3 linked regions of the Homo sapiens genome follow. The protein of the gene in region 2 purifies or fractionates together with the protein of the main gene of each other region. This does not show direct contact. Each region holds a gene or a part of one and is shown on either strand. Other genes may lie near its edges.

The links.
Region 1: the proteins of LRP3 (region 2) and ZNF100 purify together in Homo sapiens (affinity purification with mass spectrometry; one large-scale study listed by BioGRID and IntAct). This does not show direct contact.
Region 3: the proteins of LRP3 (region 2) and PIGA purify together in Homo sapiens (affinity purification with mass spectrometry; one large-scale study listed by BioGRID and IntAct). This does not show direct contact.

Annotation. Positions count from the first base shown.
Region 1 is NC_000019.10:21,726,026-21,729,677, reverse strand, and holds part of ZNF100 (zinc finger protein 100), read left to right. Parts: intron 1-1,688; coding exon 1,689-2,995; 3' UTR 2,996-3,652.
Region 2 is NC_000019.10:33,192,728-33,196,479, reverse strand, and holds the start of LRP3 (low-density lipoprotein receptor-related protein 3 precursor), read right to left. Parts: upstream 2,151-3,752; 5' UTR 1,695-2,150; coding exon 1,622-1,694; intron 1-1,621. UniProt on the Homo sapiens protein: Probable receptor, which may be involved in the internalization of lipophilic molecules and/or signal transduction. Its precise role is however unclear, since it does not bind to very low density lipoprotein (VLDL) or to LRPAP1 in vitro.
Region 3 is NC_000023.11:15,328,888-15,332,539, reverse strand, and holds part of PIGA (phosphatidylinositol N-acetylglucosaminyltransferase subunit A), read left to right. Parts: intron 1-547; 5' UTR 548-609; coding exon 610-1,324; intron 1,325-1,892; exon of another isoform or gene 1,893-3,652. UniProt on the Homo sapiens protein: Catalytic subunit of the glycosylphosphatidylinositol-N-acetylglucosaminyltransferase (GPI-GnT) complex that catalyzes the transfer of N-acetylglucosamine from UDP-N-acetylglucosamine to phosphatidylinositol and participates in the first step of GPI biosynthesis.

The sequences.
Region 1 (3,652 bases), about 11 Mb from region 2:
ATACTTAGAAGTAAAAGTATATATGTGCATATAATCTTTCCCAGAAAGTAATGTATTTTTTTGTTGTTTTTTGTTTTTGTTTTGTTTTGTTTTTATTTTTTCTTTCATTATTATACTTTAAGTTCTAGGGTACATGTGCACAATGTACAGGTTTGTTACATATGTATACATGTGCCATGTTGGTGTGCTGCACCCATTAACTCGTCGTTTACATTAGGTATTTCTCCTAATGCTATCCCTCCCCCCTCCCGAAAGTAATGTATTTTTATTTGACTGTGTTGTTTTTGTTGAATCATGTTATTTTCAATAGAAGCAACTGCTTTCAGTACATTTTGTATGTAGGGTTTATGGAGTTCCAATATACTTTTCAGAATTTTGTTACTTTTGAAAGTTATTTTCTTTTTATTTGGCAGGACAGATTTGCTGATAGTATTATGCTTACTTGATTGCTGTATTTTACAGGAGTTTGACTTTATTACACACTTCCCTTCTGGCCTGCAAAATTTTTATTGACAATTCACTGGCTGTCTCATAAGACTATGCTGGCAAATGACGCATCACTTTTATCTTGCAGCTCCCAAGGTTCTCTTGTCTGTGACTTTTGAAATTGTGCTTATATATGTGTTTGTTATAAATATCTTTGTGTGTTTCCTAGTTTGTTTGTTGAGCTTCTTCATCTTTACATCGTTTCTTTCAATATTTTTCAGCTATTCTTTTTTATATTTATTACCTCCACAATTTGTTTTTTTGATATTCTAAATATTTATGTTCTTATCTTCATTTTTCTGATTTTCTATAGTTCTCTGTCTTCCTGTTTCACTCACTGAGTATTATTCAATTTATTTTCAATTTTTAAAATCGGTGTGTATACATCTTTTTTATAGTTTCTTTTTTAAAATTTTATATTTTTATGGAACCATATTGCCTTATTTTGTATACATTGTAATCCTTGATTGAAATTTGGACATTAAAAAAGGCTACCTGTCACAATCTTTATAATGTAGCTTTGTCCTGGCATAGTCTGAACAATCGTCTTGGTTAGAGATTCTGGGAGTCTCTCAAACATGTTCTTAGAATGTGTCTTGTCTGAGATTTTGTCTTTCTCTTTTAGTTAAAGGAGTTTATTCATGTTTCTTCTTAATAATAATCACGTGCTACACCTGTTTTCTGTCTGTGGTACAGCAGTCTCTCTGTTGCTGAAACATTTACCTTTGGTCTCAGCAAAGTTAAGACTGTCACTCCAAAGTATACCACCGTTTCTTTCAGCATTATATTTCAAGAGAGACACAAACCAGTGTCTGGAAAGGCTCCTAGAAGCAAGTAATAAAGATAAATGTGCCAGTATTTTACTTGTCATTAAAAACAAGTTGGCAATTTACTTCTAAAGACAGTATGTTATATTGGGGAGCAGAAAGAGCTCTGTTGGGTAAATGTACAGACTTTTACTTCTAAGTGGCTCTTTGCATTGTTCTCACCAGGGGCACTTCACACACTTAACTCATTTATAATTTTTTTCAGATGTAATTTGGTTGGTTTTTTTTTTTTTACATTTATATGTCTATAAAGGAATGAGGGCCTTTGGTATTTTCCTATGCCATCTTATTTATGTAGTTTGTATATTAGAGGTTAGATTTGTAAACTATCTGTGTCTAGTAAGTAAAGTAATTTGTTATTTTTATTTCTTTCAGTTATATGTTCTCATTTTCCCCAAGACCTTTGGGCAGAGCAGGACATTAAAGATTCTTTTCAAGAAGCGATTCTGAAAAAATATGGAAAATATGGACATGACAATTTACAGTTACAAAAAGGCTGTAAAAGTGTGGATGAGTGTAAAGTGCACAAAGAACATGATAACAAATTAAACCAGTGTTTGATAACTACCCAGAGCAACATATTTCAATGTGATCCATCTGCAAAAGTCTTTCATACATTTTCAAATTCAAACAGACATAAGATAAGACATACTAGAAAGAAACCTTTCAAATGTAAAAAATGTGAAAAATCATTTTGCATGCTTTTACACCTAACTCAACATAAAAGATTTCATATTACAGAGAATTCCTACCAATGTAAAGATTGTGGCAAAGCCTTCAACTGGTTCTCAACCCTTACTACACACAGGAGAATTCATACTGGAGAGAAACCCTACAAATGTGAAGAATGTGGGAAAGCATTTAACCGGTCCTCACACCTTACTACACATAAGATAATTCATACTGGAGAGAAACCATACAGATGTGAAGAATGTGGGAAAGCTTTTAACCGGTCTTCACACCTTACTACACATAAAAGAATTCATACTGGAGTGAAACCCTACAAATGTACAGAATGTGGCAAAGCTTTTAACCGGTCCTCACACCTTACTACACACAGGATAATTCATACTGGAGAGAAACCCTACAAATGTGAAGAATGTGGCAAAGCCTTTAACCAGTCCTCAACCCTTACTACACATAAGATAACTCATGCTGGAGAGAAACCTTACAAATGTGAAGAATGTGGCAAAGCTTTTTACCGATTCTCATACCTTACTAAACATAAGACAAGTCATACTGGAGAGAAATTCTACAAATGTGAAGAATGCGGCAAAGGCTTTAACTGGTCCTCAGCCCTCACTAAACATAAGAGAATTCATACTGGAGAGAAACCCTACAAATGTGAAGAATGTGGCAAAGCTTTTAATGAGTCCTCAAACCTTACTACCCATAAGATGATTCATACTGGAGAGAAACCCTACAAATGTGACGAATGTGGCAAAGCCTTTAACCGGTCCTCACAACTAACTGCACATAAGATGATTCATACTGGAGAGAAACCCTACAAATGTGAGGAATGTGGCAAAGCTTTTAACCGATCCTCAACCCTTACTAAACATAAGATAACTCATACTGGAGAGAAATCTTACAAATGGGAAGAATGTGGTAAAGACTTTAACCAGTCCCTAAGCCTTATTAAACAAAATAACTCATACTGGAGAGAAACCCTACAAATGTGAAAAATGTGGCAAAGCCTTTTACCAGTCCTCAACTCTTACTAAACATAAAAAAATTCATACTGGAGGGAACTCCTGTGACTGTGAAGAATATGGCAAAGCCTTTAATAAATTCTCAATTCCTAACAGACATAAGATAATTCATACTAGAGAGAAATTCTACAAACCAGAAAGATGTGACAGTGCTTTGAAAACACCTCAAACTTTTCAAAACATAAATCATAGTGTTGAGAAATCCTAGAAATGTGAAGAATGTGATAAAGTTTTAAATGGTTGTCACACTTGATTGTAGGTAAGGTAAGTTATACTGGAGAAAACTTCTACATGTGTGAACAGTGTGACAAAACTTTTAACTAATGCTCACACCTTCACAGGAAAGCATTTATACTTGAGAAATATTGTACAAATATAAAGACTGTGAAAAAGCCATTAATACATGCTCACATCTTACTCAACATCAGAGAGTTCATACTCAATAAAAACATAAGTGCAACTACTGTCAAAATATCTTTAAGAAAATATAAGCTTTTAAAGTGAAGAGTATTTTGAAGAAGAACATTGTAGTAGAATTGTAATATGTTTACTTGTATCACAGATCTTACTGTACACGTTTTGTATTAGAGGAAACCTCTGAAGCAGTTGCTCAAACTTTGTTCAATA
Region 2 (3,752 bases):
CTCAAGCAATCCTCCCACCTGAGCCTCCCAAGTAGCTGGAACTACAGGTGTGCACCACTATGCCTGGTTATTTTTTTATTTTTTATTTTTGTAGAGATGAGGTCTCACTGTGTTGCTCAGGCTGGTCTTAAACTCCTGGCCTCCAGCAATTCTCTTGCCTTGGTCTCCCAAAGTGCTGGGATTACAGGCACCTGCCACCGCACCCTGGCCTGCTCCTACAACTTTGAAGGGCTTCCCCCTACCAAGGGGCTTTGCTCGCCCAGCAGCAGCAGAGGCAGGAGGGGAGGCAGTTCTGATAATCCCCATTTACAGGGCACGCAGCTAGTGACGGAACCATCCTCTTCCCCCGTGCCAAGCTGACTTTGAGGAGGAAAGCAGAACTCCCCAGCCACCCCTCAAGCACCCACCTCCGTGGGGTTTGGCCCTTACTTTCACCTTCTGCTCTGGCCCGGGGGGTTACGGGCCCAGAGTCGGGGGGTGGGGGGAAACCCAACTTCCCGGGGTTCAGGATGTGTGTCAGATCCCGCCTGGCCAGGAAGCAGGAACCGCTGCCCCCACCCAGGACACCCAGGCCCCCTGGACAGAGCCAGGCCAAAGCTCCTAAGCATGGAGCGCCTGTCCCCCTGCTCTGCTCACCAGGGATGCCAGCACCCAGCAGCTCAGAGCCCAGCACACATGACCCCGCACTGAGGTTGGGGTGGGCGCGCTGGGGTTACACCCTCAATGCTCCCCAATGGCACATTCCCACTGAGCCAGGCTCACACAGCTGGGGCAAGGGCCTGCCAGAGCCTCGGAGCTCCCTGAGGCCTGGGGGTGATTACTTTGTCATTTCAGTGGCTTCAGCAAACCTGTCAGGTTACAGAGCCCTCACTGGTGACATCACAGGGTGTCCCCTAATGACCCCCAGTTCTTATAATGGCCTCCCTCCTTCATCACAGTAAATAAAGGAGCCATGTGGGTTGGGGATTTAACTCCTCCTCTCGCCTACACAGAGCGCTGGAAAGCTGGACAGAAAAACTCCCGGACAGGGCGGGAGCCCCTCCCACCCCATGCCTGGCCTTGACCGGTCCCTGGCCCAACCCAAGCACCCTCCTAAACTGAACAGGCCTGCCTGGGGGCTGAGAGACACAAAGGGAAAACAGGAGTCCCCTGGAAGCCGCCTCCACACTGGCACCCTCCTCCAGCCCTGCCCCGCACCCCGAGTCCCCATCTGCGGCTTACACCAGCCCCCACCCCAACTCCGGGCCGGAAACAGTTTCTTCTTCAGGGGACAGCCGGCCTGGCCTTTGTCCCCAGCTCCCGGGGCCCCCTCGTCTCCAGGCTCAGCGCGGGCGGGCCGGGTTGAAGGCTGCCGCCTGCACGAAGGGCCTCCTGCCAGCGCTCAGCCCGGGCTCCGGGCGCTACTCCGAGCGGGGCGGGAGCCGGGGCTGCGCCACCAGAGTCGCCCTCCCAGGCCCGGGGCCAGGCGGGCAAGCGGTGCTGGCCCCTCTCTGGGTCTCCGCGCGGGAGCCACCGCGGTGGGGGGCTCGGGATGCCGCGGCCGGAGAGGAGGTCGGTCAGGGCGCGGCGCGGACTGCCATGCGGGGGACCCGGACCTGCCCGGCCCGCGCGGCCCACTCACCCAGACAGACGACGGCCAGCTGCGCCCGGGCGCCCGGCGCGCCCTCCAGCCCCGCGGCCGCGCGCTTCTCCATGCCGGGCCCGGCCGCCCGCGGGCGCCGCCTCCTGCCCCGCGGCTCCGGCTCCGGTTCCGGCTGCGGCTCCGGCTCTGGCTCTGGCTGCGGCTCGGGCTCGGGCTCGGGCTAGGGCTCGGGCTCCGGCTGGCGTGGCTGCTGCGGCCCGGGTGCAGGCGGCGGCTCCCGAGGCGTCTTTGTGCGGTGGCGGTGCAGGCCCGTAGGGCGCGCGCGGCCACATCGGCCGCGGCGTCACGGGCCCTGCGGGGGCTCAGCGGCGGCCGCCAGGGAAGACCCCCGCCCGCCGCTGCCCCCGCGCCCCGGGAGCCCCGCCGCGGCCGGCCTGGGCCCGGGGACCCCCGGCGCGCCCATGCCCCGCGGCGCGCAGCCCGCCCGGCCCCGGCGTCCCCGGGCCGCCCCGCGCTGCGCCCAGCCCGCCCGGCCGGGTGCCGCCGGTAGAGCGTCCGTGGGTCTGTCAGTCCTCCCGCCCGGCCCCTCGCCCGCGCCCGGAGCCTGGAGGCCGCGCTGCGCCAGCCACGTGACGCGCCCGCCGAGCCGCAGTGGCGCTGGCTGGGCGGGCGGAGGCGGCTGGGGCGGGCCGGGGGCGCACGCCCCGCCTCGGGGTGCTGGACAGCTCTGCGCACCAGCCCCGCCCCGCCCGCGCCCCCCGCCGCGCTCCCCGCGCTCCAGCCCAGTGCTCCAGGCAGCCGGTGCTCGCCTGGCCTCCTCCCGGGCCCACGAATTGATCCCTCCTGGAGCCGGCTGTGCTGAGGAGGACCGGGGAGCGAGGACTGGGAAAAGGTGGGAGAGAGAGGACGGCTTAGGGACCTCATAGGGGTGGCACAAGGCTAAGGCCTGTCTTCTTCGCAAGGTGTCCCTGTTCCTGCCCCTCCGCTTCTTTCATTTGCCACAGTCCAAGTGCCCTGTCACGTCTCTAAGAGGAACCCCCTGTGCCAAGCAAGACCTGTCAGGGGACATTGGTGAACACACCAGAGGCCTCTGGAGATCTCCCAGGGCCCCCTGAGCCCACCCTGTTACCCACTATCCTCGTGAGGCTGGGGACTTGGGAGGAGGCCTGCTTCTTAGGCTGGGGGTGCCCTCTGGAGAGCTGCCCACCAAGAGGTTGAGTCCAATGAGGCAAGAACCAGGAGAGACAGGGGGAAGGTTTGAGAAGGCCATTTAGGGCCAAGACGGATGTGAAATCAGAGGTCCCCAAAGGCTCCATGGCACAGCGGGCCCACCAACCTGAGCTGAGGCTCCCAACCCTTTTCTAACACCCCCAGACCCTCATTTGATATTCTCCGTTTATGGAGAGAAGGTTGAGAGAAACTGATGGTCCGTTAGTGAAAGCGTAGACAGTCACTCACTCACTCGCACTGTGCAGGTTGATTGGATTTTAATAAAAAATGGGGGGAAGAAAAATCCTTTTAGTTTTTCTGGGTTTTCTTATTCTCTCTCTTCTAATTCCTTTGGTGATTTTTCCAAAGCAGACTTCTTAGGAAATGTATTAAAGGACGTAAAAATCAAATAACAAGATACATTACAGATTGATGGCATAGAGCACTAGCCTATGTGTAATTTGGTTTCAGAATTTCCTCAGACTGCTGACTGCGGATGAGCAGGCATTTATTTACGCATGGCAAAAATGCTCAACAGAGGCAGGGGCAATGGTAGGGTGGATCTGCGGTTTGTTCGTTTGTTGTTGTTGTTGTTGTTGTTGCTGCTGCTGCTGCTGCTTCTTAGTTTTTTTAGAGACAGTCTCACTTTTTCACCCAGGCTAGAGTGCAGAGCTGCAACCATAGCTCACTGTACCCTCAAACTCCTGGGCTCAAGCAATCCTCCCACCTCAGCCTCCCAAGTAGGTGGGATGACAGGTGTGCACCACCATGTCAGGCTAATTTTTTCATTTTTTTGTAGAGACAAGGTCTTGCTCTGTTGCCCAGGCTGGAGTGCAGTGGTGTGATCACGGCTCACTGCAACCTCAAACTCCTGGACTCAAGGGATCCTCTTGCCTCAGCCTCCCAAAGTGCTGGAGTTACAGACAGGACCCACCACACCTGGCCAAAATATGCGGTTTTG
Region 3 (3,652 bases), on a different chromosome or scaffold from region 2:
CCTCTAAGCACTGAATAACTGAACAAATTTCTTAACCCCTTTAAGCTTTAGACTTTCCATTTATAAGATGGAGTTGATAACTCATGGAGTTTTGGTGAGGCTGCAATAAGATATAGAAGAGTCTTAGCATGTAGTAGCTGATGTATAGTGGCCATTTAATAAGTATTAATAGAAGCTGGTAAAGTATAAGAGTAAAGGGGAAATATATAAATGTGTGTATGTATGTGTGTATATATACTTAATTATTGGAAGAGACTGGTTTGTTAACGTGGTAAACCATGATATGCTGTGGTGTAACAAACTTACTATTTAAAGTTACATGTAGCAGTATTTTTAGGGCAAAATTAAGACATGGTAGAACCTAGTTTTGTTGTATGTAAATGCCAAGCAAGTAAATGTCAAATGAGTAAATTGATGATTTGCTTTATTTTTAATTCTGGGGAAAGCTAACAAATTTACATTAACATTAAAACAATATCTATATCTGGATTTGTAATATGGAATGTGTTTTGTTTCTGAGCTGAGATCCTGTTTTACTCTTTTTCAGGTAATAGAGGACACATCTCTTAACTGGGTTGCTCTAAGAACTGATGTCTAAACCGTCTCAGCATGGCCTGTAGAGGAGGAGCTGGGAATGGCCACCGTGCCTCAGCTACACTCTCTCGGGTTAGCCCTGGAAGTCTTTACACATGTAGAACCCGTACCCATAATATATGCATGGTATCTGACTTTTTCTACCCAAATATGGGAGGCGTGGAAAGCCACATTTACCAGCTCTCTCAGTGCCTGATTGAAAGAGGGCATAAGGTTATAATTGTCACCCATGCTTATGGAAATCGAAAAGGCATCCGTTACCTCACCAGTGGCCTCAAAGTCTATTACTTGCCTCTGAAAGTCATGTACAACCAGTCTACAGCCACGACCCTCTTTCACAGTCTGCCATTGCTCAGGTACATATTTGTTCGGGAGAGAGTCACGATAATCCATTCACATAGTTCTTTTTCTGCTATGGCCCATGATGCTCTCTTCCACGCCAAGACAATGGGGCTTCAGACAGTCTTCACGGACCATTCCCTTTTTGGATTTGCTGATGTCAGCTCGGTGCTTACAAACAAGCTTCTAACCGTGTCTCTTTGTGATACAAACCACATCATTTGTGTGTCTTATACTAGTAAGGAAAATACTGTACTAAGAGCAGCACTGAATCCTGAAATAGTGTCCGTCATTCCTAATGCTGTAGATCCTACTGACTTCACTCCAGACCCATTTAGAAGGCATGATAGTATAACTATTGTTGTTGTCAGCAGACTTGTTTACAGAAAAGGTAATGAAATGATAGCTATAATTGCATTGTAGACTTTTTTCCCTATAGAAAGCTGTTGAATACTTGTATATAATGATTGTTTGGCTTTTCATTTTGTTTTATGGTTTTATAATGCTATAAATTATAGCAAAGAAAGTTCTAATATTGGTTTATATATCCAAGAAGAGCGATTTTTCAGGATGGTGGTGAATGCTGTCCCCCAACCTTTGATGTTTTAATGGTTACTAAAAATAAGAATAACCTGATGCTGTTAAATTTCAGATCTTTTTAAAAATTAAAACAGCCCTGCACATGTGGTAAAGAAGTAGAGGGCAGGCCGTGTACGGTGGCTCACACCTGTAATCTCAGCACTTTGGGAGGCTGAGGCAGGCAGATCACGGGGTCAGGAGGTTGAGACCATCCTGGCTAACATGGTGAAACCCTGTCTCAACTAAAAATACAAAAAATTAGCTGGGCATGGTGGCAGGCTCCTGTAGTCCCAGCTACTCCGGAGGCTGAGGCAGGAGAATGGCATGAACCTGGGAGGCGGAGCTTGCAGTGAGCAGAGATCGTGCCACTGCACTCCAGCCTGGGCGACATAACGAGACTCCGTCTCTAAAGAAAAAAAAAAGAAGTAAAGGGCAGAGCTCACAGATGGCTTTTTTCTTCTGATTGCCAAAGTAATGTCTTTTCATTGCAGATATTTTGGAAACTAAGAAAAGCACAAAGATGAAAACTAAAATCAGCTGTAACTGTATTATTCAGAGATACCCTAATGAGTATTTTGATTTATAGCTTTCCTGTCTTTTTTATGTGTACGTACATATACTGAAAATCAGTGGGCTTGCTCTGCACGTTACTGTATTGTAGCTTGCTTGTTTCATTTCATCATGTATAAGACATTAGTAACATATTGGCAGGTAAGTGATGAAGAAAAGGGGATTAGATGTCCTGGGATCAGATGATGGGTCTGTCCTGCTGTGTGATCGAGGACAAGTAGCTTAACATCTCTAAGTCTCAGTTTTTTCATTTGTGTAATGTAAGCAACATTGGGAACCTCGCAAGGGTTCAGTGATAGTTCCTATAAACTATTAGCCTAGTTTGTAACTGTCCACTATTATCAAGGAGGTTTTTGGGTTTTTTTTTTTTGAGACGGAGTCTCGCACTGTCACCCCCCGGGCTGGAGTGCAGTGACGTGATCTCAGCTCACTGCAACCTCTGCCTCCCAGGTTCAAGCGATTCTCCTGCCTCAGCCTCCCAAGTAGCTGGGATTACAGGCGCCCACCACCAAGCCCAGCTAATTTTTTGTATTTTTAGTAGAGACAAGGTTTCACTATGTTGGCCAGGCTGGTCTCAAACTCCTGACCTCGTGATCCACCTGCCCCGGCCTCCCAAAATGCTGGGATTAACAGGCGTGAGCCACTGCACCTGGCCAAGGAGGCTGTTTTTTGTACCTCTACAGCACTTAATGGACACTGCAGTTGAATGTGTGGAGGCTTGTTTACTAAAAGTCTGACACAGTCTGGTTATAAAAAACAGTGTCTTCTGAGTGCTATTTGAAAACCTGTCCACTAATCAAAAGTGTCATTTATAGTAGGGAATCATTAAAAAAAATACATAAATACATACCCCCTTAAATAGTTAATATTTGAATTAAACTCAAAATATTAATACACACTGAGTTGCCCGTAGTTTGATGTAGGATTGCAGGCTTTGAGTGCTGGGCCACTGGTTTCAGCTGCATCTTGCACACCCTCCTTCATAAAACATAATCTACCATTGCTACTTTGAGTTTCTTTTGGGTGGGGTCAGAACTTAAAGGCGTATGAACTGATATGCTTCAGGAGTTTTAATTTGTTTTCAATTTTATACAGTAGTTTAGGACACCCCTCATCTGCCAAGAACTTTTTTCTGTGACATTCCTTTATTGGATTTTTCAAACTGTTCAGCTTAGTTTTTGTGGATACTCTTTTTGTCAGTTTATATGATAATTAAATTACTCAACACGACGATAACAAGTACAACTGACATCAAACAGATGTGTGAACAAACAATTGATTCTTGACAAGCACTGAATTCAGTGGTGTGCCAGTGTGCTAGGGAGTGGCCTAAAATCTAGATGTGGGCCTTGGTCAGTTTACGTTTGGAATGGAGAATCTTGATTGACCCAGCAGTCCATTTAAGTGGAGGTTGGCAAGGAAACTTGGCCTGAACTTCATTTTCTGGTTTGAAGGCAATGACATGCTTTCATTCTTTAATCAGGAACATGTGAACCGACTGGCATTCTGTATTCTGAATTCCTCCTGGGACATTAGTGATGTGTTTTTTTGTAACTTAGGAATTGTACCT